2 linked regions of the Homo sapiens genome follow. The protein of the gene in region 1 purifies or fractionates together with the protein of each later gene. This does not show direct contact. Each region holds a gene or a part of one and is shown in the gene's direction. Other genes may lie near its edges. The genes, in order: SLC44A2 and RP2.

The links.
Region 2: the proteins of SLC44A2 (region 1) and RP2 purify together in Homo sapiens (affinity purification with mass spectrometry; 4 studies listed by BioGRID and IntAct, with this or other methods). This does not show direct contact.

Annotation. Positions count from the first base shown.
Region 1 is NC_000019.10:10,629,294-10,646,417, forward strand, and holds the end of SLC44A2 (choline transporter-like protein 2), read left to right. Parts: intron 1-1,763; coding exon 1,764-1,848; intron 1,849-1,981; coding exon 1,982-2,092; intron 2,093-2,181; coding exon 2,182-2,242; intron 2,243-2,332; coding exon 2,333-2,456; intron 2,457-2,574; coding exon 2,575-2,658; intron 2,659-2,750; coding exon 2,751-2,863; intron 2,864-5,462; coding exon 5,463-5,594; intron 5,595-5,680; coding exon 5,681-5,780; intron 5,781-5,869; coding exon 5,870-5,962; intron 5,963-6,137; coding exon 6,138-6,222; intron 6,223-7,029; coding exon 7,030-7,292; intron 7,293-7,368; coding exon 7,369-7,463; intron 7,464-8,350; coding exon 8,351-8,454; intron 8,455-8,562; coding exon 8,563-8,636; intron 8,637-8,729; coding exon 8,730-8,800; intron 8,801-8,933; coding exon 8,934-9,022; intron 9,023-13,073; coding exon 13,074-13,158; intron 13,159-13,603; coding exon of another isoform or gene 13,604-13,725; exon of another isoform or gene 13,726-13,985; coding exon 13,986-14,092; 3' UTR 14,093-15,264; downstream 15,265-17,124.
Region 2 is NC_000023.11:46,837,921-46,849,793, forward strand, and holds part of RP2 (protein XRP2), read left to right. Parts: intron 1-11,873. UniProt on the Homo sapiens protein: Acts as a GTPase-activating protein (GAP) involved in trafficking between the Golgi and the ciliary membrane.

The DNA of each region.
Region 1 (17,124 bases):
TGAAACGGAATTTTGCTCTTGTTACCCAGGCTAGAGTGCAGTGGCACAATCTCAGCCCACTGCAACCTCCGTCTCCCGGGTTCAAGCGGTTCTCCTGCCTCAGCCTCCCGAGTTGCTGGGATTACAGGCATATGCCACCATGCCCAGCTAATTTTTGTATTTTTAGTAGAGACGGGGTTTCATCATATTGGTCAGGCTGGTCTCGAACTCCTGACCTCAGGTTATCTGCCTGCCTTGGCTTCCCAAACTGCTGGTATTACGGGTGTGAGCCACCACACCCGGCCTATTATTATTATTACTATTATTATTATTTTGACACAGTGTCTCACTCTGTCAGCCAGTGGCAGGATCATAGCTCGCTACAGCCTGGAACTCCTGGGCTTAAGCGATCTTCCCACCTGGGCCTTCCAAAGTGCTGGCACAAGACAGGCCTGAGCCACCCTGCCTGGCCCTATATAAGATATCTTTTTTTTTTTTTGAGACAGAGTCTCGCTCTGTCGCCCAGGCTGGAGTGCAATGGTGCGATCTTGGCTCACTGCAACCTCCGCCACCCAGGTTCAAGCAATTCTCCTGCCTCAGCCTCCTAAGTAGCTGGGATTACAGGTGCCCGCCACCACACCCAGCTAATTTTTTGTATTTTTAGTACAGACGGGGTTTCGCCACGTTGGCCAGGCTGGTCTCGAACTCCTGACCTCAGGTGATCCGCCTGCCTTGGCCTCCAAAAGTGCTGGGATTACAGGTGTGAGTTACTGCACCCGGCCATATAAAATATCTTAAAGGAAACAATAGGCCGGGCACGGTGGCTCACGCCTGTAATCCCAGTACTTAGGGAGGCCCAGACTGGAGGATTGCTTGACACCAGCCTGGGCAACATGGTGAAATTCTGTCGCTACCAATAATAGAAAAAATTAGCCAGGTGTGGTTGCGCACACCCGTAGTCTCAGCTGCTCAGGAGGATGAGGTGGAGGATCACTTGATCCTAGGAGGTAGAGGCTGCAGTGAGCCAAGATTGTGCCACTGCTCGCTCTGTCTGGGCAACAGAGAAAGACTCTTGTCTCAAAAAAGAAAAAAAAACAAAAGAGGCCGGGCGCAGTGGCTCACGCATATAATCCCAACACTTTGGGAGGCTGAGGCGGGTGGATCACCTGAGGTCAGGAGTTCGAGACCAGTGTGGCCAACATGGCAAAACCCCGTCTCCACTAAAAATACAAAAATTAGCTGGGCATCGTGGCGGGCACCTACCTGTAGTCCCAGCTACTCGGGAGGCTGAGGCAGGAGAATTGCTTGAACCCAGGAGGCGGAGGTTGTAGTGAGCCCACATCACACCATTGCACTCCAGCCTAGGCAACAGAGCAGGACTCCATCTAAAAAAAAAAAAAAGAGAAAAATAAAAAAAGTTTTCTATAGGGTGGTTAAGAAGTCTTAACAGGTCGGGTGTGGTGGCTTACACCTGTAATACCAACACTTTGGGAGGCCAAGGCAGGCGGATCACCTGAGGTCAGGAGTTTGAGACCAGCCTGGCCAACATGGTGGAAACCCCATCTCTACTAAAAATACAAAAATTAGCCGGGCTTGGTAGCGGGCACCTGTAATCCCAGCTACTCGGGAGGCTGAGGCAGGAGAATTGCTTGAACCCGGGAGGCGGAGGTTGCAGTGAGCCGAGATCACACCATTGCACTCCATCCTGGGCAACAAGAGCGAGACTCTGTCTCAAAAAAAAAAAAAAATCTTAACAGTTTCCATTCTCCCTTCTCTAACTCCAGGAACAAACCCTATCTGTTTTATTTCAACATTGTGAAATGTGCCAGCCCCCTGGTTCTGCTGGAATTCCAATGTCCCACTCCCCAGGTAACCTGGTCCCCACCGTTCCCTTTTTCCTCTCCCCGCTTCCCATCCTTTTCCCCCTGTGAATGTGGGCTGCGACCTCAGTCCTGAGCAGTCTGCCCCAACTCCACCCAATCCCTTCCTTCTCCCCTCCCAGATCTGCGTGGAAAAATGCCCCGACCGCTACCTCACGTACCTGAATGCTCGCAGCTCCCGGGACTTTGAGTACTATAAGCAGTTCTGTGTTCCTGGCTTCAAGAACAATAAAGTGAGTTGTAGACTGTCCTGAGAGCACAGGTATGGGCAGTGGCAGTGTACTAGACTTGGGGACTCACCTCCCTCCATCTCTCTTGGCAGGGAGTGGCTGAGGTGCTTCAAGATGGTGACTGCCCTGCTGTCCTCATCCCCAGCAAACCCTGTGAGTCAGGGGATCCCAGGAGGCTCAGGTGGTGACGGGGAGGCTCTGCAGAGGCTCAGCCTGACTGGTGCCATCCTCTGCTCCATGCAGTGGCCCGGAGATGCTTCCCCGCTATCCACGCCTACAAGGGTGTCCTGATGGTGGGCAATGAGACGACCTATGAGGATGGGCATGGCTCCCGGAAAAACATCACAGACCTGGTGGAGGGCGCCAAGTGAGGATATTGGCGCACCGCGCCAGGGTCTCACTTTGCTGGGTGGGACAGGCAATCCCCTGTGGTTGGCCTGATCATGGAAGAGGGTCTGACCCGAGCCTTGTCCTCCTTCCCCCAGGAAAGCCAATGGAGTCCTAGAGGCGCGGCAACTCGCCATGCGCATATTTGAAGATTACACCGTCTCTTGGTACTGGATTATCATGTAAGTCAGGAGGGAAGGGGCCTCTCCCCTGGCTGCCCCCTCTAAGCCTGGCTGAGGGTGGAGTCTGTTCATGACCGTTTTCTTTTCCCCAGAGGCCTGGTCATTGCCATGGCGATGAGCCTCCTGTTCATCATCCTGCTTCGCTTCCTGGCTGGTATTATGGTCTGGGTGATGATCATCATGGTGATTCTGGTGCTGGGCTACGGTGCGTCACCCCCTCCCTGTGGCTTCTCTTTCCTGAATCCGCACACTGCCCTGCCCTTTCCCGTGGAAATGGCCCATCAGGAAAACAAAAAAAAGTCAGGCCGGGCGTGGTGGCTCACGCCTGTAATCCCAGCACTTTGGGAGGCCGAGGCAGGCAGATCACCCGAGGTCAGGAGTTCAAGACCAGCCTGACCAACATGGAGAAACCCCGTCTCTACTAAAAATACAAAATCAGCCGGGCATGGAGGTGCATGCCTGTAATCCCAGCTACTCAGGAGGCTGAGGCAGGAGAATCGCTTGAACCTGGGAGGCGGAGGTTGTGGTGAGCCGAAATCACGCCATTGCACTCCAGCCTGGGCAACAAGAGCGAAACTCCATCTCAAAAAAAAAAAAAAAAGAAAAAATGTCTCAGCACCGTAGTTAAGGATGCATACTCTGGTATCAGAATAGCAGAGGTTCAAATCCTGGCTTTGCCAATTCTTTGGGCAAGTGCCTCAACCTAACTGTGCTTCAATTTCTTTCTTTTTTTTTTTTGAGACGGAGTTCTGTTCTTGTCACCCAGGCTGGAGTGCCATGGCGCGATCTTGGCTCACTGCAACCTCCGCCTCCTGGGTCCAAGCTATTCTCCTGCCTCAGCCTCCCAAGTAGCTGGGATTACAGGCATGCACCTCCATGCCCGGCTGATTTCGTATTTTTAGTAGAGATGGGGTTTCTCCATGTTGGTCAGGCTGGTCTCGACCTCCTGGCCTCAGGAGATCTGCCCGCTTCAGCCTCCCAAAGTGCTAGGATTACAGGCAGGAGCCACCGCGCCCGGACTGCTTCAATTTATTTCTCTATAAAATGAGGGTAATTCATATTTCTAGTTGGCAAACTAAATGACAAGGAGGTAATGAGCAGATAAAATATGGGTAGGGGCCTGTTTAGTTCAGGCCTGTGGAATCCAGAGGCACAATATCGTGCTCAACAAAACAGTGCTTCATATTTTGGATTTTTGTTGTTTTTGAGTTGTTGTTTTGTTGTTGTTGTTGAGACGGAGTCTTGCTTTGTCACCCAGGCTGGCGTGCAGTGGTGCAGTCTCGGCTCACTGCAATCTCTGCCTCCCGGGTTCAAGCAATTTTCCTACCTCGCCTCCCGAGTATCTGGGATTACAGGCGCACACCACCATGCCCGGCTAATTTTTTTTGTATTTTTAGTAGAGATGGGGTTTTACCATATTGGCCAGGCTGGTCTCGACTTCCTCGTGATCTGCCTGCCTCGACCTCCCAAAGTGCTGGGATTACAGACGTGAGCCACCGCGCCCAGCCTTGATTTGTTTTTTGAGACAGAGTCTCACTCTGTCACCCAGGCTGGAGTTCAGTGGCACAATCACAGCTCACTGCAGCCTTGACCTCCTGGGCTCAAGTGATCCTCCCGTCTTGGCCTCCCAAGTAGCTGAAACCACAGGCAAGCACCATCATGCCTGGCTAAATTTTTAATATTTTTGTAGAGACAGGTTCTCCCTATGTGGCCCAGGCTAGTCTTGAACTCCTGAGCTTGAGCAGTCCTCCCGCCTTGGCCTCCCTAAGTGTTGGGATTACAGGCGCAAGCCACTGTGCCTGGCCCATATTTTGATTATTCCTTGAACTTTCCTGGAAGAAAAATGCTTGGCAATCCAATTTGAGGACACTCATAGTAAAATATTCATATTAATAGTGGTTTCTAGCTGGGTGCGGTGGCGCACGCCTGTAATCCCAGCAATTTGGGAGACAGAGGTGGGCGGATCACCTGAGGTTGGGAGTTCGAGACCAGCCTGACCAACATGTAGAAACCCCATCTCTATTTTTTTTTTTTTTTGAGACAGAGTCTCTCACTGTCGCCCAGGCTGGAGTGCAGTGGCGCGATCTCAGCTCACTGCAACCTCCGCCTCCCGGGTTCAAGCAATTCTCCTACCTCAGTCTCCTGAGTAGCTGAGATTACTGGCGCCCACCACCACGCCCAGCTAATTTTTTTTTTTTTTTTTTTTTTTTGTATTTTTAGTAGACACGGGGTTTCACCATGTTGGTCAGGCTGGTCTCGAACTCCTGACCTCGTGATCCACCCGTCTTGGCCTCCCAAAGTGCTGGGATTACAGGCGTGAGCCACCGCGCCCGGCCAACCCCATCTCTATTAAAAATACAAAATTAGCCGGGCATGGTGGCGCATGCCTGTAATCCCAGCTGCTCGGGAAGCTGAGGCAGGAGAATCGCTTGAACCCGTGAAGTGGAGGTTGCGGTGAGCCGAGATTGTGCCATTGAACTCCAGCCTGGGCAACAAGAGTGAAACTCCGTCTCAAAAAAAAAAAAAAAGAGAGAGAACTTAGACCATGGCAGCATATGATTATGATTCCAAGTAGGGGGAAAGGGTTCTGGAAGTTCTCTTCTGAAGGTGACACTTGAGCAGAGACCTAAGGATGTGTGGGATCCAGCCATGGGGAGAGAATGCACCGGGCGGTGGGAACTGCAAGTGTAAAGTCCCTGAGGCAGAAGCCTCGATGTTTGCTTCTGTTAAATGGGGGCAGTTGTAGCTGCTTTGCAAAGTTGCAGGAGGCACTGCTGGACTGAGCTTGTGGTTCCCCCATGCAGGAATATTTCACTGCTACATGGAGTACTCCCGACTGCGTGGTGAGGCCGGCTCTGATGTCTCTTTGGTGGACCTCGGCTTTCAGACGGATTTCCGGGTGTACCTGCACTTACGGCAGACCTGGTTGGCCTTTAGTGAGTCACAGTCTCCCATTCCTGCCCCCACATGAGGCCTTGGAGGGAGTGGGGAGCCCAGCCGGCTCAGCCTTTGCCCTTTGCAGTGATCATTCTGAGTATCCTTGAAGTCATTATCATCTTGCTGCTCATCTTTCTCCGGAAGAGAATTCTCATCGCGATTGCACTCATCAAAGAAGCCAGCAGGTGGGGGGCCAGGGTGCCAGGGGCCAGGATGGAGCTGTCCCTAGAGTTGTGTCTTTTGCCCTGACGCCTGTGTCTCTGCTCTTCCCTAGGGCTGTGGGATACGTCATGTGCTCCTTGCTCTACCCACTGGTCACCTTCTTCTTGCTGTGCCTCTGCATCGCCTACTGGGCCAGCACTGCTGTGTATCTGCCCCCAGACACTGATCTCTGACCCCAGGGATGGCTAAAGACCAACTTTGCCTAGAAGTGACCTGCAGCTTAGGGATAGGGCTGGAAACTGGTGGGAGAATGGATTCTTTCCCACAAAAGTCCCTGGGGTCCTCAGTCCTAGACCTCTGCTTCCTTAACGAACCTCCAGCTTCCTGTCCACTTCCAACGAAGCGGTCTATAAGATCTTTGATGACAGCCCCTGCCCATTTACTGCGAAAACCTGCAACCCAGAGGTGGGCGTCCCCGGGGTGGGGAGGGCAGGTATTGCCCCAGCAGGCCCCAGATGATTTGAAACCTCTCATGTCCACTTGGAGGTTCAGCAAACAATTGGCCCCTGTTGCATGTCCTGTGCTAGGTGTGGGGGAGGACGCACAGTGGGGAAGAGACTCTCTAACTGGATCGAACAACTTCCCAGGGCAAGCTGGCTTCCTCTCTTCAACTTGACCAGGCCTTCACCCTGGGTGCTAAATCACCCATTTTTCCCTACTTCCTTTTTTTTTTTTTTTTTTTTTAATAAGACAGAGTCTTGCTCTGTCACCAGGCTGGAGTGCAGTGGCATGATCTCAGCTCACTGCAACTTCCAACTCCCTGGTTCAAGCGATTCTCCTGCCTCAGCCTCCCGAGTAGCTGGGATTATAGGCACACACCAGCACACCAGGCTAATTTTTGTATTTTTAGTAAAGACAGGGTTTCACCATGTTAGCCAGGATGGTCTCGATCTCCTGACCTCGTGATCCACCTGCCTCTGCCTCCCAAAGTGCTGGGATTACAGGTGTGAGCCACCTCGCCCGGCCCATTTTTCCCCATTTCATTTCCTGTCTCCATGCCCTCTTCTTGACCCCAGTGATGGCCACGTCTTGTTTCTAGAATCCCTTCCTTTGCACAAGCCATATTCTGAACTCTTAATTCCTTCCCTTAACTTCAATCCCTATGTCTCCTGTCCTACCTCATGGTTTTCCTGGCCCCACACCTGATGCTCAGAGCCCACTGTGAACCCCTGGTGCCTCTTTTTGGACTCGGTTCTCCCTTCTCTCCCACAGACCTTCCCCTCCTCCAATGAGTCCCGCCAATGCCCCAATGCCCGTTGCCAGTTCGCCTTCTACGGTGGTGAGTCGGGCTACCACCGGGCCCTGCTGGGCCTGCAGATCTTCAATGCCTTCATGTTCTTCTGGTTGGCCAACTTCGTGCTGGCGCTGGGCCAGGTCACGCTGGCCGGGGCCTTTGCCTCCTACTACTGGGCCCTGCGCAAGCCGGACGACCTGCCGGCCTTCCCGCTCTTCTCTGCCTTTGGCCGGGCGCTCAGGTGGGCTGGCGTTGCAGGCAGGATGGGGTGGAGGACGAGGCCTGGCCCAGCCACCGACCACTCCCTCGGCCCGCAGGTACCACACAGGCTCCCTGGCCTTTGGCGCGCTCATCCTGGCCATTGTGCAGATCATCCGTGTGATACTCGAGTACCTGGATCAGCGGCTGAAAGGTACGTCCCACCCACGGTTCGCATTAGCTCCTGTTGCGGGGCGAGGCTGAATAGCGAACCAGGATTGGGTCTTGCTTGGAGGTGGGCGGGGCCAAGATAATAGAGCAGTGATGGGTTTCTGTCTATGACGGGGTGGAGTTCAGGAGTTGGCGTGATTGAGTCCTGCGATGGAGGAGCAAACCAGAGAACCTACTGGGTGGAATTCTTGCTGTTGAGGGGACAGGCCCAAGAGGCCTGGCCCACCATTGGTTATTACCAGAGTGAATTGGAGTGGTATATATTTGCGCTGAAGAGAGCAGGAATAAGACTGGTTTATTAGCCGGGCGCCGTGACTCACGCCTGTAATCCCAGCACTTTGGGAGGCTGAGGCGAGCGGATCACCTGAGGTCAGGAGACCAGCCTGGCCAACATGGTGAAACCCCGTCTCTACTACAAATACAAAAATTAGCCAGGCATGGTGGTGTGTGCGTCTGCAGTCCTAGCTACACGGGAGGCTGAGACAGGAGAATCACTTGAACTCCGGAGGTTGAGGTTTCAGTGGGCCGAGACCGAGCGACTGCACTCCAGCCTGGGCAACAGAGCGAGACTCCATTTCAAAAAAAGGAAAAAAAACTGGTTTATTTTTCTTAGAGGAAGGGCTCTGGGGCTGGGATTGATGGTACTTTGTTTTAGAGACAGGATCTCTCACCCTGTCACCCAGGCTGGAGTGCAGTGGCACCATCATAGCTCACTGCAGCCTCAAACTCCTGGGCTTAAGTCCCTGTCTCTTTGACAGCGTGGACTCAGGAGACCTGGACATTGGCAAGTGTGTGTGATAGGGAAGAGGGGATCCCTTCCAAGTCAGGCTGGTGTCCCCTCACTTCCACATCCCTTCCCTTCTCTTCCAGCTGCAGAGAACAAGTTTGCCAAGTGCCTCATGACCTGTCTCAAATGCTGCTTCTGGTGCCTGGAGAAGTTCATCAAATTCCTTAATAGGAATGCCTACATCATGGTGAGTGGGCCTGGGACCCCCAACCAACCCGCCAGCTCCTGCTGGGTGAGAGGACCACCCCCCATGCCCACCCAGTGGGTCTGATCTCTCCCTCCCACTCTCCTCCAGATTGCCATCTACGGCACCAATTTCTGCACCTCGGCCAGGAATGCCTTCTTCCTGCTCATGAGAAACATCATCAGGTCGGGAATCATTATCATCTTCCTCCTGCCACCCGCCTCTTCCCCTAGTCCCTGAAGCCAGCATTCACACCTGCCCCTCACTGTCCCCTGCAGAGTGGCTGTCCTGGATAAAGTTACTGACTTCCTCTTCCTGTTGGGCAAACTTCTGATCGTTGGTAGTGTGGGTGAGTGCCGCCCACCTAGCCTCTCGGGGTGTGGGAGCCTGATTTCTGTCTTCTGTGATGAGTGTCATCTTCTTAGGAGGCTGTTTCCTATATCCAGAACCCTTCGCCATCTTGCTTTCTTCTCCTTCTCCAGGGATCCTGGCTTTCTTCTTCTTCACCCACCGTATCAGGATCGTGCAGGATACAGCACCACCCCTCAATTATTACTGGGTTCCTATACTGGTATGGACCTCTGGGGAGAGATGGGGGTTTGGGAAGAAAGAGGTGTTGGGATTTGCTTGGTCTTCTTTGACTAGATAAATGTGGATAGAGGTCAGAGGTGGGGAATTGATTATTTATTCAGACCACAAACTTTTTGTTTGTTTTTGAATCAAGAGTCTTGCCCTGTCGCCCTGACTGGAGTGCAGTGGTGCAATCTTGACTCACTGCAACCTCTGCCTTCCGGGTTCAAGCGAATTCTCGAGCTTTTGCCTCCCGAGTAGTTGGGATTACAGGTGCCTGCCCCCACACCTGCCTAATTTTTGTATATTTATTTTTTAATTTTAATTTAATTTTTTTTTTGAGACAGACTCACTCTGTTGCCCAGGTTGGAGTGCAGTGAAATGATCTTGGCTTACTGAAACCTTCACCTCTCTAGTTCAAGCGATTCTTGTGCCTCAGCCTCCTGTGTAGCTGGGATTACAGGCACCTGCCACCACACCTGGCTAACTTTTTTTTTTTTTTGAGATGGAGTTTCACTCTTGTTGCCCAGGCTGGAGTGCAATAGGGTGATCTCAGCTCACTGCAACCTCCGCCTCCCAGGTTTAAGTAATTCTCCTGCCTCAGCCTCCCGAGTAGCTGAGATTACAGGCACGAGCCACCACGTGTGGCTAATTTTACATTTTTAGTAGAGACGGGGTTTCTCCATGTTGGTCAGGCTGGTCTCGAACTCCCGACCTCAGGTGATCCACCCGCCTCAGCTTCCCACAGTGCTGGGATTACAGGCGTGAACCACCACACCTGGCTAATTTTTGTATATTTAATAGAGATGGGGTTTCACCGTGTTGGCTGGGCTGGTCTCAAACTCCTGACCTCAAGTGATCCGCCCGCCTCGGGCTCGCAGAGTACTGGGATTGCAGGTGTGACCCACCACGCCCGACCTCAGACCACAAACATTATCAAGCACCTACTGTGTGTCAGGCATCGAGGTGGAGGGCTTCCCTCTAAAGGCCTTAGAGTTTGGGGGTAAACAGATACTCCTCCATAATGATATTGGTGAATGTATGATTGCAAACTGGGACATGCCACGAGTATGTCTGTATAGCACAGGGAACTGTTTGAAACTGTGGTGGGGGCTGGGCAGGTGTGGGGGGGGTCCAGGTGGTGCCATGCAGGTGATGTTGGATCTGAGATCTGAAGCTGCAGGCAATATCCAGGCAGAGGGAACAGTACAGTGGCCCTGAGGTGGGAGTGTGCCAGGAAGCAGTGGGGCTGACGTGGAAGGAGTAAAGAAGTGGAGATAAGGGCCAGGCACCGTGGCTCACACCTGTAATCCCAGCACTTTGGGAGGCTGAGGCAGGTGGATCACCTGAGGTCAGGGGTTTGAGACTAGCCTTGCCAGCATGGCGAAACCCAGTCTCTACAAAAAAAATACAAAAATTAGCGGGGCGTGGTTGTGGGCACCTGTAATCCCAGCTACTCGGGAGGCTGAGGCAGGAGAACTGCTTGAACCTGGGAGGCAGAGGTTTCAGTGAGCCGAGATCGCGCCACTGCACTCGAGCCTGGGTGACAGAGTGAGACTCTCTCTCAAAAAAAAAAAAGTGGAGATACGGCCAAGGAGGTTAACAAGGCTGTGGAGGGATTGAGCCTTCATTGCAAGGGCAGTATTGTATCTCAGTGTAGGTCTTGAAGCCCATTGACCTAGTTTCTTATTTTAGTTCCTCTATTTAGTAGTTCTAAGATGAGTAAGAGTAATCTTGGGCAAATTATTTAATCCTCTAAGGTCCACTGACTTTTTTTTTTTTTTTTTTTTTTCTGCGATAGAGCCTTGCTCTGTCACCCACGCTGGAGTGCGATGGAGTGATCTCTGCTCACCACAACCTCCACCTCCCGGGTTCAAGCGATTCTCCTGTCTCAGCTCCCTGACTAGCTGGGATTACAGGCATATGCCACTGTGCCCGGCTAATTTTTGTATTTTTAGTAGAGACGGGGTTTCACCCTGTTGGTCAGGCTGGTCTCGAACTCCTGACCTCAGGTGATCCACCCACCTCGGCCTTCCAAAGTGCTGCCAATAAAGGCATGAGCCCCTGTGCCTGGCCATTTCATTGTTTTGAATTTTTAATTTAATATAATAGAGATAGGCCAGGTGTTGTGGCTCAGGCTCTACTATAATAACAATAATAATAGAGGCAGTGTCTCCCTATATTGCCAGGCTGGTCTTGAACTCTGGACTCAAGGGATCCTCCTGCCTCAGCCTGCCAAAGTGCAAGGACTACAGGCATGAGCCACCACGCCCAGCCAGGTCCACTGACTTCAGTCAACAAATGTTTATCTAGCAGCTACCAAGGCCGTGTGAGTCTCCAGATTGCTAGGGATGCAGCAGTAAATGGGACTGGGTCTAGTGAGGATGTGAGCATTAAACCTGAAAGCCCTAAACATGCATAAAATTGCAGCTGCACCAAGAGCTCAGGAGGGGTGCCCAGTGCTAGGAGGACATAAAATAGGCTCTAGAGGCCGGGCATGGTGGCCCACACCTGTAATCCCAGCACTTTGGGAAGCCAAGGCAGGCGGATCATGAACGTCAGGAGATTGAGACCATCCTGGCTAACATGGTGAAACCCCATCTCTACTAAAAATACAAAAAAATTAGTCAGGTGTGCTGGTACGCACCTGTAGTCCCAGCTACTCAGGAGGCTGAGGTAAGAGAATCGCTTGAACCCGGGAGGTGGAGGTTGCACTGAGCCAAGGTCCCACCACTGCACTCCAGCCTGGGTGACAGAGCAAGATTCCGTCTCAGGAGGGAAAAAAAAAAGGCTCTCAGCCAGACGCAGGGGCCCACATGTATAATCCCAGCACTTTGGGAGGCCGAGGCAGGCAGATCGCTTGAGCTCAGGAGTTTGAAAACAGCCTGGGCAACATGGCAAAACCCCATCTCCACAAAAAAATACAAAAATTAGCTGGGTATGCTGGAACATGCCTGTAGTCCCAGCTCCTTGTAAGCCTGAGGTGGAAGGATCACTTGAGCCTGGGAGGTCAAGGCTGCAGTGAGCTGAGATGGGGCCACTGCACTCTAGCCTGAGCAACACAGTGAGACCCTGTCTCAAAAAAAAAACAAAAAAAAAACGCCCACTCTAGGTGTCGTAGGTGGTTTCCTGGAGGAGGTGGGACTTGAGGACTTGCTCTTTGAGCTGAAAGCAGAAGGTCGATGGGGCATAAATTAGATTTAAGTCAGGACAATAGCACATGCAGAGGCCCAGGGGTTAAAGAAAGCAAGGGTGAGGCTGAGTGCAGTGGCTCATACCTGTAGTCCCAGCACTTGGGGAGGCCAAGGTGGGCGAATCTCTTAAGCCCAGGATGGGTAATGGGTAACGTGGCAAAAACCCATCTCTACAAAAAATACAAAGGTTAGCCGGGCACAGTGGTGCACATCTGTAATCCCAACTACTCCGGAGGCTGAGGCGGGAGGATCACTTGAGCCCAGGAGGCAGAGGTTGCAGTGAGCTGAGATTGCACCACTACAATCCAGCCTGGGCTACAGAGTGAGACCGTGAGACCCTGTCTCAAAAAAAGAAAAAAAAAAAAGGCCGGGTGTGCGGTGGCTCACGCCTGTAATCCCAGCACTTTGGGAGGCTGCGAGGCAGGTGGATCACCTGAAGTCAGGCGTTTGAGACCAGCCTGGCCAACATGGTGAAACCCCGTCTCTACTAAAAATACAAAAATGAGCCAGGCGTGGTGGCACGTGCCTGTAGTCCCAGCTCCTCCGGAGGCTGAGGCAGAATTGCTTGAACCTGGAAGGCAGAGGTTGTAGTGAGCCAAGATCGTACCATGGCACTCCAGTCTGGGCAACAGAGTGAGATTCCGTCTCAAAAAAAAAAAAAAAAGACGGAGAGAGAGAAAGAGGATTTTGTGTGGATGGTGGGGCCCTGCCAGCGGGGGTGAGGGGTTGGGATGTCACTAATCCAAAGAGGGTTTCTCAGCAGGGGAAGGATGTGGTCCCAGCATAGGATGGACTCAGGGGGTGGGGGCTGCTCTGGGAAGGACACGGAGCAGGGACAGCTCGTTTCTCCTTGCCCAGACGGTGATCGTTGGCTCCTACTTGATTGCACACGGTTTCTTCAGCGTCTATGGCATGTGTGTGGACACGCTGTTCCTCTGCTTCTGTGAGTGACCCCTCACCCCAAACCTTGCTGGGCCCCGAATCCCTTCTTTCCACTGGGCATCACATCACCCTCCAACGGGGCAACACGCTTGCCTGCCCCCAGCTTCCCCAGGGCTTGGCTGTCCCTCGTCCTGGGTCCCCAGCCTGTCTTCCTGGTTTCCTTTTGCGCTTAGAAGCAGCTCCGACCTCCTGTCCACTGGCCCAGGCTGCAGCCTGGACGCTGCCCTGGAGCCCGCCCGCGCTTCGCAGTTTCTGGCTTTGACTGGGGGGAGGGGATCTGTGGCTGCCACTAACTCTGGTCTCTCCATCTGTTTTTTTTGTTTGTTTTTTTCTTCTCTCTTCCTCTCCTCCATGCCTGCTGGCTTCCCTGTTCTTCCCTGCCTCCCTCTTTCCCTCCCTTCCCGACCACCCCATTTTCCCCCTGCCGGTTCCCGGGGGGAGCCCAGGTGAGGACCTGGAAAGGAATGACGGCTCTCAGGAGCGACCCTACTTCATGTCGCCCGAGCTGAGAGACATCCTGTTGAAGGGGAGTGCGGAGGAGGGGAAGCGGGCAGAAGCCGAGGAGTAGAGAGTGAGGGAGACTGGCGTGGGGGCCAGGTTTCCTCCATGTAGACTGGGGGTGCATGAAGCGGGGGGGTTCCTGGCCTGCGAGTGTGGGGATCCTGTGTGTCCCTCGGAGCCCACTACAGTCTGCCCCTCTCTGGTCCCAGTGTGTCTGCTTTCTAACCCTCTGAGGCTTCTCTGTGACCCTCATCCACCTACCCTGTCCTTGAGGCCCCTGCCCGTGGGCTCCCCTCATGCCTCCTGCTCTGGGACCTCTCTCCACAGTGGAGGACCTGGAGAGGAATGACGGCTCGGCCGAGAGGCCTTACTTCATGTCTTCCACCCTCAAGAAACTCTTGAACAAGACCAACAAGAAGGCAGCGGAGTCCTGAAGGCCCCGTGCTCCCCACCTCTCAAGGAGTCTCATGCCGCAGGGTGCTCAGTAGCTGGGTCTGTTCCCCCAGCCCCTTGGGCTCACCTGAAGTCCTATCACTGCCGCTCTGCCCCTCCCCATGAGCCAGATCCCACCAGTTTCTGGACGTGGAGAGTCTGGGGCATCTCCTTCTTATGCCAAGGGGCGCTTGGAGTTTTCATGGCTGCCCCTCCAGACTGCGAGAAACAAGTAAAAACCCATTGGGGCCTCTTGATGTCTGGGATGGCACGTGGCCCGACCTCCACAAGCTCCCTCATGCTTCCTGTCCCCCGCTTACACGACAACGGGCCAGACCACAGGAAGGACGGTGTTTGTGTCTGAGGGAGCTGCTGGCCACAGTGAACACCCACGTTTATTCCTGCCTGCTCCGGCCAGGACTGAACCCCTTCTCCACACCTGAACAGTTGGCTCAAGGGCCACCAGAAGCATTTCTTTATTATTATTATTTTTTAACCTGGACATGCATTAAAGGGTCTATTAGCTTTCTTTCCGTCTGTCTCAACAGCTGAGATGGGGCCGCCAAGGAGTGCCTTCCTTTTGCTCCCTCCTAGCTGGGAGTGACGGGTGGGAGTGTGTGTGCCCAGGTGGGGGTGTCTCCTGGCTGGGAAGGAGGGAAAGGGAGGGAGAGTTTTGCGGGGGTTGGCAGTGGAGAGCAGGCTGGAGAGGAGATGGCTAATAGCTGTTTAATGGAAACCTGCTGGGCTGGAGGGAGTTAGGCTGAATTTCCCGACTTCCTCTGCCAGTTATTGACACAGCTCTCTTTGTAAGAGAGGAAAGAAACTAAACCCACCCAAGGGATGATGTCAGGGGGAGAGGTGGAGGGCAGATGTCCTGGGCAAACCGGGCCCCTCTGCCCACACACCTCACTTGATCCTTTTGCCAAACTTGTCAAACTCAGGGGAACTGGCTTCCCAGTTGCCCCTTTGCCATATTCCAAGTCCCCCTCAGACTTCATGTCTCTGCTCATCAGCACTGTCCCAGGATCCTGGAGAGGGAGAACTCCTGGCCCCAGGGGAAAGAGGGGGGGGTCTCCCGTTTCCTGTGCCTGCACCAGCCCTGCCCCCATTGCGTCTGCACACCCCTGCGTGTAACTGCATTCCAACCACTAATAAAGTGCCTATTGTACAGGTCCAGGCCTGGTGTGTTTGTTGGGGGCAGTGAGCCAGTGGCGGCTGGTAGGGGGAACCCCAGCTTCCAAGGCCCTAGGAGTCTCTGAACTAGGGCGATTCTCTCAAAGGGAACGAGGAGGGGGCAGGAAACCCACTGGCTGCTGGCTCTGCCTGAATTCCAACCTTCAGGCAGCTCAGATTTCCCGATTAGGCTCTAATCCCTGGACTCCAGAAGGCAGAGGCAGCCTGTCCACCTCCGCCATCACCCATCCTGGACACACGCCCCCAGGCCTCCCCTCTCTCAGGGCCCAGGCACCTGAGGTCCTGCAGTCACTATGCTCCCCAGCTACTTTGGATCTGCGAAGGGACTGACTGCCCTTGGGGTGGGCCCCACTGCCTGGAAGCTCGCTGCTGCCCCCTCGTGCCAGCTGCCAGTGTCAGTCACCTCCAGGCAATCCGCCCCAACATTTCAATTCTTTCCACCTCCTCTCAGGGAATTTTTCTTCAATATCCACTTTTTTTTTTTTTTTTTTTTTTCAGACAGTCTTGCCCTGTCACCCAGGGTGGAGGGCAGTGGTGCGATCTCGGCTCACTGCAACCTCCACCTCCCGGGTTCCAGCGATTCTTCTGCCTCAGCCTCCCGAGTAGTTGGGATTACAGGTGCCTGCCACCACGCCTGGCTAATTTTTTGTGTTTTTAGTAGAGACCAGGTTTCGCCATGTTGGGCAGGCTGGTCTCAAATTCCTCACTTCAGGTGATCCGCTGGCCTCGGCCTCCCAAAGTGCTGGGATTACAGGCGTGAGCCACCTGGCCCAGCCTTTTTTTTTTTTTTTTTTTTTTGAGACAGGATCTCACTCTGGCTGAAGCTAAAGTGCAGTGGTGCAATCATGGCTCACCACAGCCTCAGGTGATCCTCCCATCTTAGCCTCCCGAGTAGCTGGGACTACAGGTACACACCACCACACCTGACTAATTTTTGTATTTTTTGTAGAGATTGATTTTTACCATATTGCCCATGCTGGTTTTTTTTGTTTGTTTGTTTGTTTTTTGAGACAGAGTCTCCCTTTGTGGCCCAGGCCACAGTGCATAGTGCCACAGTGCAGTGGCACAGTCTCAGCTCACTAAACCTCCTGGATTCAAGTGATTCTCGTGCCTCAGCCTCCTGAGTAGCTGGGATTACAGGCGCGTACCACCACATCCAGCTAATTTTTGTAGTTTTAGTAGAGACGGGGTTTCACCATGTTGGCTAGCCTGGTCTCAAACTCCTGACCTCATGTGATCCACCTGCCTCGGCCTCCCAAAGTGCTGGGATTACAGGCATGAGCCACCAAGCCTGGCCAGCATTTTTGTTTGTTTGTTTCCAAGAAGGCATTTGAACCCAGGTCTTGGCTCCAGAGTCCTCAAGTTCTACCCTATGCTGGCACTGACCCCTTCCTCGATGCCTTTGTTTCCCTGGATCCTTTGAATCTGGCATTTTATTCAGCCCCAGCTCCTGTTACCATGCCCACCTAAAAAATAGCTCCTGGCGGCCGGGTGCGGTGGCTCATGCCTGTAATCCCAGCACTTTGGGAGGCTGAGGCGGGTGAATCATGAGGTCAGGAGTTTGAGACCAGCCTGGCCAACATGGTGAAAACCTGCTGCTACTAAAAATACAAAAATTAGCCAGGCATGGTGGCACATGCCTGTAATCCCAGCTACTCGGGAGGCTGAGGCAGGAGAATCGCTTGAACCCAGGAGGCAGAGGTTGTGGTGAACCAAGATGACACCATTGCACTCCAGCCTGGGCAACAGAGCAAAACTCTGTCTCAGAAAAAAAAAGAAAGAAAGAAAAAGATTTGTGGTACGATACATATAGCATAAAATTTGCCATCTCCATCTCTTT
Region 2 (11,873 bases), on another chromosome or scaffold:
TTGTATATAGCCAGAAACGAAAAACCTTTGAAAACCTCCATTAGTCTTACACAAAACACACTCGGTCATACATTTCATAATAGTTCCTCTTTCTACATAGTTCTCCATTTGTGCTTACTAAACTACTTTGATGGACTTATCAATTATTTCTCCCAAACAAAATGAGAGATTTTTCAAATGGGTATTATGAACAGTTAACTCTTTGCTTAAGGCAACATATCTTTACCCAAGATTACTTTATAATAAATGTATTAACGTTTTGGAATCACAGACCTTTCTGCATGATTTCCAATCCCCAGCAGAATGTATTCAGGTAAGCTCTGGTCTCTAAGAGTCAGAGTTAGGAAATTGAAAGCTTTTTGCAGCTTTTCTCAGCCCCGTCTTTCTGCCCCTACTTCTCATACACACCCTTCTTGGGTCACATGGTACCTTTATTCTCTGTTAGTCATACTCGATAGTAGCATTTTATAATGTAGGGGAAGAAAGTACTATGCTTTCTATTTCACAAGAAGATTGCACCTGCCATTTAAAGTTATCTGATGGGCGGTTTTTAAAAGATATTGTTTTCCTCAGCCTTTGGCTTTCTAACAATGTTCTTTTAGCTTGAATTGTCTGCCTTAGAGAAAGTTGCATATTTCATTTTTATTTTAGTTTTTTCTTTTGAACTCAGGCTAAATCTAAACTAAATAAAATGCCTTTTTTATTTATAGTAGTCTTGGCTGCCTATGACTCATCGTTTCACAATAAATTGTTTTACAGTTAATGTTTATTAACATAATATTCAGGTTAGTTAGGACTTCTCATGTTAATCCTTCTTTTAGATAAGTGTGTGTGTCCTGTGATTTTTTTTCTTCTTTTGCCCATTGGCTAAGTAAATGCATTGAGAAATATAACATTGGACACCAACATCTAAGCTTTTTCCCCACAAATGAGTGTGTAATAAACTTTCAATTGTAGAAACTGTTTTGAGCTTACAGAGAACCTTTTTTTTTGAGAACACTACTAAGTTCTGTAGTTGTAGAGTTGTAAGAGATGTTATTGGATATATAAAATAAGCTCATGCTTCTGAGTGTGTGTATAATAAAAGTTAAAATCTTGATCAACTCAGCCAATCAAAATGAGAATTTCTAACCAAATGAGCATTCTGAAAAAAACCCCAGTTTTAAAATATTTTGGACTGTTGAAGAGAATTACCAGCTTACATTTTGAGACAATGCAGATACCACATTTCCCAACATAGCTTTTTCTTTTTAGTTTTTTTTTCTTTTGGAATTACTAGGAATTCTTTCTAAGTTGCCTCATTTTGATAGCTTGTTAAATTTTATACAATTTAAAATATTTTTTTCTAGGGCCAGGCATGGTGACTCATGCCTGTAATCCCAGGACTTTGGGAGGCCAAGGCTGGTGGCTCTCTTGAGCCCAGGAGTTCCAGACCAGCCTGGGCAATATGGCGAAACCTCATTCCTACTAAAAATACAAAAATTAGTGGGGCATGGTGGTGCACACCTGTAGTCCCAGCTACTCAGTAGGCTGAGGTGGGAGGATCACCTGAGCCTGGGACTTAGAGGCTGCAATGAGTCATGATCGGGCCACTGCCCTCCAGCTTGGGCAACAGAGTGAGACCCTGTTTCCAAAAAAAAAAAATAAATAAATAAAATATTTTTTCCTAGTTCCTTGCCTCCCGTGAGGTTAATTTGGGCTAGTGTGCAAATGTTCTGTATTAGTCCAATGATACGTTTACTGAGCATGGCCTTGCTTGCTCCTAGAAGATTTCAGTTGTACCTTAAAAGGAACAGATTGCAAATACAGCCCAGAGAACATAAATGAGATATGATGCATGCATATTAATAGAAATGATTTATATTAAAAGTTTAGGCTTCTGGAATGTGGTTATGGATTATAGCATATACAGTTTTAAAGTTATATCAGACAATTACCATTCAACTTGTAAGACTTTTACATGTAAAAACAAAATGGGTTGCCTGAAAAATTTCCTTGCAGCTTAGAAAAGGGTGTTTACATTTTTCCTTAGGTTGTGTAATCAGAGTATCTTTTTTTGATGTTTTCTTTTTGAGATGGAGTCTGGCTCTGTCATCGCCCAGGCTGGAATGCAGTGGCGCGATCTCGGCTCACTGCAACCTCTGCCTCCTGGGTTCAAGCGATTCTCCAGCCTCAGCCTCCTGAGTAGCTGGAATTACAGGCGTGCACCACCACGCCTGGCTAATTTTTGTATATTTTTAGTAGAGACAGGGTTTCACCTTGTTGGCCAGGCTAGTCCTGAACTCCTGACCTCAGGTGATCCACCTGCCTCAGCCTCCCAAAGTGCTGGGATTACAGGCGTGAGCCACCGCTCCCAGCCCAGAGTATCTTTATTGAAGGGCACCCCTTGGGTTTTGGGGTTTGAGTTGTGTAATTGGGTCAGTCTTAGGGGACTGAAGCTGGGAGAAATTGTCTCATTTAGAAGGAATGTCTGGGGACTAAGCATTGTCATAGCAACTGACATACTGTAGTCAACAGTGTAAGAAGCTCATTTTCTATTGCTACTGACTTTGAAAAAGAAAAAAGATTACAATTCTTACACTGATGTGATGAGAAATATTTTTGGATTGTAAGACTTGTGTTTAAATTATTTCAAAAGAAATGTTTTTATCCTTATCTGTATGCTGCCACCCATAGGTAGGCAAATTATTCAGTATGTATGTACTCAAACACCAAGTAAGTCTCAAAATTATAAGACTTATCCCTGCCCTAAAAGAGTTTACTGGCTTTCTGGAGTTAAAACAGGAAACATTTAAGTACATATGAGGTGAGGAAGAGTGATACGGAAAAGTAGTTTTCATCTTCCAGTATTCATGCCCATACTTTTCCTCCTAGATAATAGAAATGAGGATTAACTCTAAACAATTATGGCTTAAGTGTGAAAATTGTGATTTGAGTAAGGACAACACATGTGTCTGTTATATTTGTCTCATATTCAATAGAAATAATACTAAACAAAAATCTTATACCAGAAATTCGAGTATCTATTGTGTAACTTTGGGTAAAGCAGCCAATTTGTGCACTTCAGGTTCCTCAGCTATATAGTAGGACAATGCTAAAGATTTCTCTACTGTTTAGTAAGGTAAAGGCCTGTCCTGAAGAAGAGGTTTAGACAGTAATGGTCACCTCTGAGGAAAGAACTTAAACCAGAGGTTGGGCATGACAGAACTGGTTTTAACATAAGGCAGATCATAATTCCCAGGATTGGTCATCAGTGGAAGGGGTGGCTTCGTTGAGGACCTGATCTCCATGTTAGTCAAAATTGTCAGACAGTTAGGGTGGTAATCTGCTAGAAAGAAGTGTCTGCACTAAGTAGGAGGAGGCTAGATACTGTTTTTAGCCTTCTTTTAAGTATGAAAAGTATTCTAGTTACCCATTGCTGTGTACCAAACCACCCTAAAACTTAATGGTTTAAAATAATGGCAGATATTTTGTTCATAACTCTTTAATTTGCATAAGGTTAAGCAGGGTTGACTCTGCTCAATGTGGCATCAACCGTGACAGCTTTCAAGATGGCTTGACCACATAGCTGGCTGGCAAGTTGATGCTGGCTTTGGGCTGGGAGCTCAGCTGGGGCCTCTCCATGTATTCCTGGCTTCCTTACAGTGTGATGGCAGGGTTCCAAGGGCAAGCATCCTAAGAGAGACTGGCAGAAGCTGCATGGTTTTTTTCTAACTAGCTTATTAAGTGAATTCTTAAGTCACTTAATTAGACTTAATTTGGATGTGGCAGGAGTAATGCTGAGGCAGTCACAAATGCCCACCCAGTTCCAAGAGGAGGTGACCTCTCAATGGGAGGAGTGTCAAAGAATTTGCCAGTAGGTTTTAAATCCTCTATATAAAGTTGTTTAAAGGATATAACTAGTTCTTTGTTTATTAATTTTAAAAATAGCTTTTTAGAGATATAATTCATATGCCATACAATTCACCCATTTAAAGTATATAATTCATTCTATCTAACTGTATATATATTTTTGAGATGGAGTCTCACTCTGTTGCCCAGGCTGGAATGCAGTGGTATGATCTCCGCTCACTGCTCCGCCTCCTGGATTCAAGCGATTCTCTCACCTCAGCCTCCCAAGTAGCTGGGATTATAGGCGCGTGCCACCACACCCAGCTAGTTTTTGTATTTTTTAGTAGAGATGAGGTTTCACCATGTTGGCCAGGCTGGTCTCGAAACTCCTGGCCGCAGGCAATCTGCCTGCCTCGACCTCTCAAAGTGCTGGGATTACAGGCATGAGCCACAGTGCCTAGCCGTCTAACTGTGTTTTTGTACTCATTAACCAACCACTCTTCATCCTCTCCTCCCCACTACCCACCACAGCCAACTATTGTTGATAATAATTTATTGTATATTTCAAAATAGCTAGAAGAGAAAATGTGGAATGTTCCCAACACAAAGACATGATAAGTGTTTGAGGTAATGGATATCCCAGTTACCCATATTTGATCATTACATTGTTGTATGCTTGTATGAAAATATCACATGTACCCCATAAATGCATACTACTATTATTATATATCCATAAAAATTTAAAATAAATTTAGTTTAAAAATAAAGTATATAATTCAGTATTTTTTAGTAAGTTCACAGGCTTATCACCATGGTCTAATTTTAGAACATTTTCATCCCTGGAAAAAGAAACCCTGTACCCATTAGTAGTCATTCCCCATTCTCGTCTCTCCGAGCCCCTGGAAACCACAAACTTATTTTCTGTCTCTATAAGTGTTCCTATTTTGGACATTTCACTTCATTGGAGCCACAATATTTAGCCTTTTGTGACTGGCATCTTTCACTTAGCATGTTTTTGAAGTTTGTCCATATCGTAACATGTATCAAGACTTTATTCTATTGTATGGATATACCACATTTTATTTATCTATTCATCAGCTGATGGACATTTGGGTTGTTTCTACTTTTTGTCTATTATGGATAATGGTGCTATGAACATTTGTATACAAGTTTTTGTCTGGACATGTTTTCATTTCTGTTGTGTACACATCTAGGTTTGGAATTGCTGGGTCATATGGTAACTCTATGTTTAACTTTTTTTTTTTTTTTTTTTTGAGACGTAGTCTCACTCTGTCGCCCAGGCTGGAGTGCAGTGGTGTGATCTCAGCTCACTGCAAGCTCCGCCTCCCGGGTTCACGCCATTCTCCTGTCTCGGCCTCCCCAGCAGCTGAGATTACAGGCGCCCGCCGCCACGCCCGGCTAATTTTTTGTATTTTTAGTAGAGACGGGGTTTCACCATGTTAGCCAGGATGGTCTCGATCTCCTGACTGCGTGATCTGCCCACCTTGGCCTCCCAAAGTGCTGGGATTACAGGCGTGAGCCACCGCGACTGGCCTATGTTTAACTTTTTGAGGAACTGCTAAACAGTTTTTTAGAGTGCCTGCACCATTTATATTTCCACCAGCAATGTGTGAGTGTTGTTTCTTCACCCATATAAAATTTTGATAAAGGTAAAAAGCATAGAGAGTGAAAAGTATATGGGGCTGGAATTTTAATTTGTATTCTGCACCTAACTACACCTCACTGGTAAACTAATTTAGCTTTTAGCCCTCAGTTTCCTAAGATCCCTTCCAGTTCTTGAATTCTTTGAGCAGCCCATGAGGGGAGGTAAGCATTGCTAGAAACATTCAGGCAAATCTGGATGAACAAAGGGAATGTGATAGGATGTAAAAATAGATTCAGATTAGATTAGATGATATGGGGAATCTTTTCAATCCTAAAATTTCATAATTCTATTTTGTTGTTATATATTTCACAAAATGGTAAGCTAATATAAATGTAGTACTTCAGTTTCTCGAATCATCAATAGTATATAAGCTCAAGATACTGGTCTTGAGCTTATACTATATAAGCTCAAGATACAGGGTAATTTTTGTATTTTTAATAGAGACAGGGTTTTGCCATATTGGCCAGGCTGGTCTCGAACTCCTGGTCTCATCTGATCCTCCCACCTCGGCCTCCCAAAGTGCTGGGATTAAAAGCAAGAGCCACTGCACCCAGCCTCAGAAATTTTTATAGAAGTTTTAAGAATGAAGCATCAAAAAAGAAAAGGTATCAGAAAGCTGAAATAGCAAGGTCGTGGTTAAGATCATTAGATACATAGGATATGAGTTGAATTTTTCATAGCCCCTTTTATTAAAACAATCATTTAAAAAATATATTTTTGACCCTGGTACTCTACAAAGCTTAGTACATTTTTTTTATTTAAAAAAATTTTTTTATTATACTTTAAGTTGTAGGGTACATATGCACAACGTGCAGGTTTGTTACATATGTATGCATGTGCCATGTTGGTGTGCTGTACCCATTAACTTGTCATTTACATTAGGTATATCTCCTAATGCTATCCCTCCCCCCTCCCCCAACCCCACGACAGGCCCCGGTGTGTGATGTTCCCCTTCCTGTGTCCAAGTGTTCTCATTGTTCAATTCCCACCTATGAGTGAGAACATGCAGTGTTTGGTTTTTTGTCCTTGCTATAGTTTGCTGAGAATTATGGTTTCCAGCTTCATCCATGTCCCTACAAAGGACATGAACTCATTCTTTTTTATGGCTGCATAGTATTCCATGGTGTTTATGTGCCACATTTTCTTAATCCAGTCTATCATTGATGGACATTTGGGTTGGTTCCAAGTCTTTCCTATTGTGAATAGTGCCGCAATAAACATACATGTGCATGTGTCTTTATAGCAGCATGATTTATAATCCTTTGGGTATATACCCAGTAATGGGATGGCTGGGTCAAATGGTATTTCTAGTTCTAGATCCTTGAGGAATCGCCACACCGTCTTCCACAATGGTTGAACTAGTTTACAGTCTCACCAACAGTGTAAAAGTGTTCCTATTTCTCCACCTCCTCTCCAGCACCTGTTGTTTCCTGACTTTTTAATGATCGCCATTCTAACTGGTGTGAGATGGTTATCTCACTGTGGTTTTGATTTGCATTTCTCTGATGGCCAGGGATGATGAATATTTTTTCATGTGTCTGTTGGCTTGCATAAATGTCTTCTTTTGAGAAGTGTCTGTTCATAAAAGCTTAGTACATTTTTTACTTGTATAAATTCCAAATAGGCTAAAAGCCTACTGACAGTATTGACAGTAGCAATGATGATGTAGGTGTCACTTGGGTTAAGTCACAGGAAAACTCAAACCATAGTGTCACAGAGGCTACCCTTTAGCTTTGCATGCCCAGAACACAATTTAATAGCAAAGATAGTGGATCTGTCTTCTGGGAGGTGTGTATATTGACTAAGATCATAAGTTTTATATTATTATTGAGAGAAACTATTTGTCCTGTTCATTTTCTTATTATGTTTCAAAGTCATTGAGATTAAGAATTTATATTTCAGCACTATTAGTTCTATAATTATGTGGCACTAATGTTTTCATTTGTGAAATAACCTCTCAGCTACATAGCTATCTAGCCCTGAAGCTGACTTAACAATGTTTAAACTTTAAGTATTTGTTTTAATTGAAGTGTAATTTATATACAGTAAAATTTACCCTTGTTAAGTGTACGGTTCTATGAGTTTTGACAAATAAATACAGTTGTGGAGCTATCACCAATCAAGATATAAAATGGTTCCATCGCCCCCAAAAGTTCTTCCTTTGTATAGTCAGTTTGCTCCTTTGTAGTCAGCCCCACTCCCAGCTCCTGATAAGTTTTCTATCCCTATAGTTTTGTCTTTTTGAGAATGTCATATACATGGAATCATACAATACGTAACCTTTTGAGTCTGGCTTCTTTCACTTAACCATAATGCATTTAAGATTTATCCATGTTGTTGCATGTATCAAGAGTTTTTTTTTTTGAGATGGGGTCTCACTGTGTCACCCAGGCTGGAATGCAGTGGCACAATCTTGGCGCACTGCAGCCTCAGCCTCCGGGGCTCAAGTGATCTCCCATCTCAGCCTCCCAAGTAGTGGAGACAACAGGCGAGTGCCACCATACTCAGCTAATTTTTTGTATCTTTTTGGTAGAGATGGGGTTTCAACACGTTGCCCAGGCTGGTCTTGCACTCCTGAGCTCAGGTGATCCGCCCACCTTGGCCTCCCAAAGTGCTGGAATTACAGGCATGAACCACCACACCCAGCCGGGAGTTCCTTTTTAATTGCTGAGTGGTATTCCGTTGTATGGATATATCACAGTTTGTTTATCCATTCATCAGTTAAAGGACATTTGGGTTGTTTCCAATTTTGGTAATTATGAATAAAGCTACCATAAATATTTGTGTACAGGTTTTTGAGTGAACATAAGTTTTCATTTCACTTGGGTAAATACTCATGAGTGGGATTGCTGATCATATGGAAATTGTTTATTAAACTTTACAAAAAACTGCCAGGTCAGTGGCTCACACCTGTAATCACAGCACTTTGGGAGGTGAAGGCAGAAGGATCGCTTGAGGCCAGGAGTTCAAGACCCGCTTGGGCAACATAGTGAGACCCCACCTCTACAAAATGGATAAACATAGCCAGGCAGAGTGGCATATGCCTGTAGTCCCAGCTACTTGGGAGGCTGAGACAGGAGGATTGCTTGAGCCCAGGAGTTTGAAGCTGCAGTGAGCTCTGATTGCACCACTGCACTCCAGTGTGGGCAACAGAGCAAGACCCTGTCTCTATAAAAAAAAAATTAATTAAAAATTTAAAAAAGAAACTGCCAAACTATTTTTCAAAGTGGCTATGCCATTTTGCCTACCAGCAGTATATGAGAGATACAGTTGCTCTGCATCCTCACATCACTTGCTTGGTATTGTCAGGTTAATTTGTTTTTAAGAGACAGGGTCTGCTCAGTCTCCCAGGTTGGAGTACAGTGGCATGATCATGGCTCACTGCAGCCTGGACTGCCTGGGCTCCAGCAATCTTCCCACTTCAGCCTCCCAAGTAGCTAGGACTACACTACATGTGTCTGCCACCACACTCGGCTAATATTTTTATTTTTTGTAGAGACAAGGTCTGGCTGTGTTGCTCAGGCTGGTCTGAAACTCCTGGCTTCAAGCGATCGTCCCACCTTGGCCTCCCAAAGTGCTGGCATTACAGCTGTGAGCTACTGCACCTCGCCTAGCTTTAAAAAAAAATGTTTAGCCATTCTAATAGGTGTGTAGTGATGTTTCATTGTAGTTTAACTTGCATTTCCCAAATGACTTGTATTTACCTAAATGTTGAGCATTTTTCATGTACTTATTTGCCATCCATATATCTTTGGTAAAATGTTTATTCAAATCATTTGCCCATTTTTTTATTGGGTTATTTGTTTTCTTATTATTGAGTTTTTCAGAGCTCTTTATATGTCCTGGATACAAGTCCCCTGTTATATATATGTTTTGCAAATACTTTTTTCCCAGTTAATAACTTGCCTTCTCTTAAGAGTGTCTTTTGAAGAGCAAACATTTTCAATTTGAGTAAAAGTCCAATTTCCACTCACTTTTTCTTTTGTGGATTGTGTTTTTGGTTTCACATCTAGGAATTTTTTTTCTTTTTCTGAGACGGAGTCTTGCTGTGTCGCCAGGTTGGAGTACAGTGGCGCGATCTCGGTTCACTGCACTATATGTATATGTATGTATGTATGTATGTATATACACATACACCATATATATGTGTGTATATATATACATACATATACAAAACAATTGCTTACTAGATGCACAAATCAATGGAATAGAGAGTTCATAAACAGGCATATCTCTCTTTACATATATATATCTATATCGATCACACTATATATATGTGTGTGTGTATATATACACACATATATGTGTGTGTGTATATACACACATATGTGTGTGTGTATATACACACATGTGTGTGTGTACATACACACATGTGTGTGTGTATATATATACACACATATATGTGTATATGTGTATATATGTGTGTATATATGTGTATATATGTGTGTGTATATATATACACGCATATATATGCGTATATACATATATATGGACTCATATATGTGTATATACATATATATATATATATATATATATATATGGACTCACAGTGTGTCCTTGGACAAGTTATATAGTCTCTGTGTGCCTCAATTTTCTCAAGTATAAAACAGAGATAATTATAGTACACAACCCTTATGGGGTTTTTATGGATTGAGTGAATGATTATAGAGCACTTAGTATGGTGCCTGGTACATATATAGTGCTTCTTATACTCCTGAATCTTTTTACTTCTATTCAGACTGGATTTTCATTGGAATTAACAAATCCCATTATTTTATCTCACATTATCATTATGGAAATTTAACTGTGGAGATGAATTTTAATGAAAAATTTGTATTGCCGCTTAGTAAGATAATAAGATGTTCATTTTTGTTTTCTGTTAGGAAAATAATGCTTAACTTGGTTTAATAGCTGTAGGACATTAAATTGATATCAGACGAATTACAACTCTTGAAATTTTTCTTTGATTTTTTTTTTTTTTTTTGAGACAGAATTTGGCTCTTGTCTTCCACGCTGCAGTGCAGTGGTGCGATCTCGGCTCACTGCAACTCTGCCTCCTGGGTTCAAGCGATTCTCCTGCCTCAGCCTCCCAAGTAGCTGGAATTACAGGCGCCCACCACCATGCCCAGCTAAGTTTTGTATTTTTAGTAGAGACGGGGTTTCACCATGTTGGCCAGGCTGGTCTGGAACTCCTGACCTCAGGTGATCCACCCGCCTCGGCCTCCCAATGTGCTGGGATTACAGGCGTGAGCCACCACGCCTGGCCACTTTCCTTGATTTTTTAAAGTATATCCATTACCTTTTAAGGATTGTAGTAAGAAATAGTCTAGGCCAGACACGGTGGCGCATGCCTGTAATTCCAGCACTTTGGGAGGCTGAGGTGGGTGGATCGCTTGAGTCCAGGAGTTCGAGACCAGCCTGGACAACATGGCGAAACCCCATCTCTACAGAAAATACAAAAATTAGTTGTGCATGGTGGTGTGCACTTGTAGTCCCAGCTACTCAGGAGACTGAGGCGGGGAGGATTGCTTGAACGGTGGAGGTCGAGGCTGCAGTGAGCTGTGAGTGTGCCACTGCACTCCAACCTGGGCAACAGAGTGAGACCCTGTGTCAGAAAAAAAAAATACAGTCTAAACTAAACTCACTTCATAAGTGGCTCTTAGGAAAAAATAATTTAAAACATGACCTTTCCATGTTTGTGATTCTAGACACTTTATTTCAGAACTAGTAACCTGCAAAATTACGAAGGATTTCAGTTTCAGTTGTTTATTATTACTTTTTTTTTTTTAAAGTGTCAGGGTCTTGCTTTGTCACCCAGGCTGGAGTGCAGTGGCATGATCATGGCTCACTGCAGCCTTGAACTCCCAGGCACAAGCAGTCCTCCTGCCTCAGCCTTCTGAGTAGCTAGGACTACAGGCGCACACCACCATGCCCAGCTAAGGGTTTTTGTGTTTTTTTACCCCCCTTCCACCAACTCACTTCAAATAATCTGCTAAGTTTTAAAAAACTTTTTTAGAGCTAGGGGAGTGTCACTGTGTCACCCAGGCCAGTCTCAAACTCCTAGTCTCACTAGGCCACTGGCCCACTCTCAAGTAGCTGGGATTACAGATGTGAGCCACTGTGTCTAGCTCCTAATGCTTTTTGTTTTGAAAAACTTTCAGGAATTGTTGAGAAAGTACAGCAACATAAATCTTAAATTTCTCCTTGGAAGGCCGTGCTGACAATCCAACTAATTTTATACTACAGAACTATTTAGCTATAAAATCTTTAGCTATCAGATTAATTTCTCCCTATGAGCTAGGAAAAGTGGAGCGTCCAGAGAAAATACTTAGGGTAGTAAATTACATTTAACTCCTCAGCATTGGCAGCTGTTATG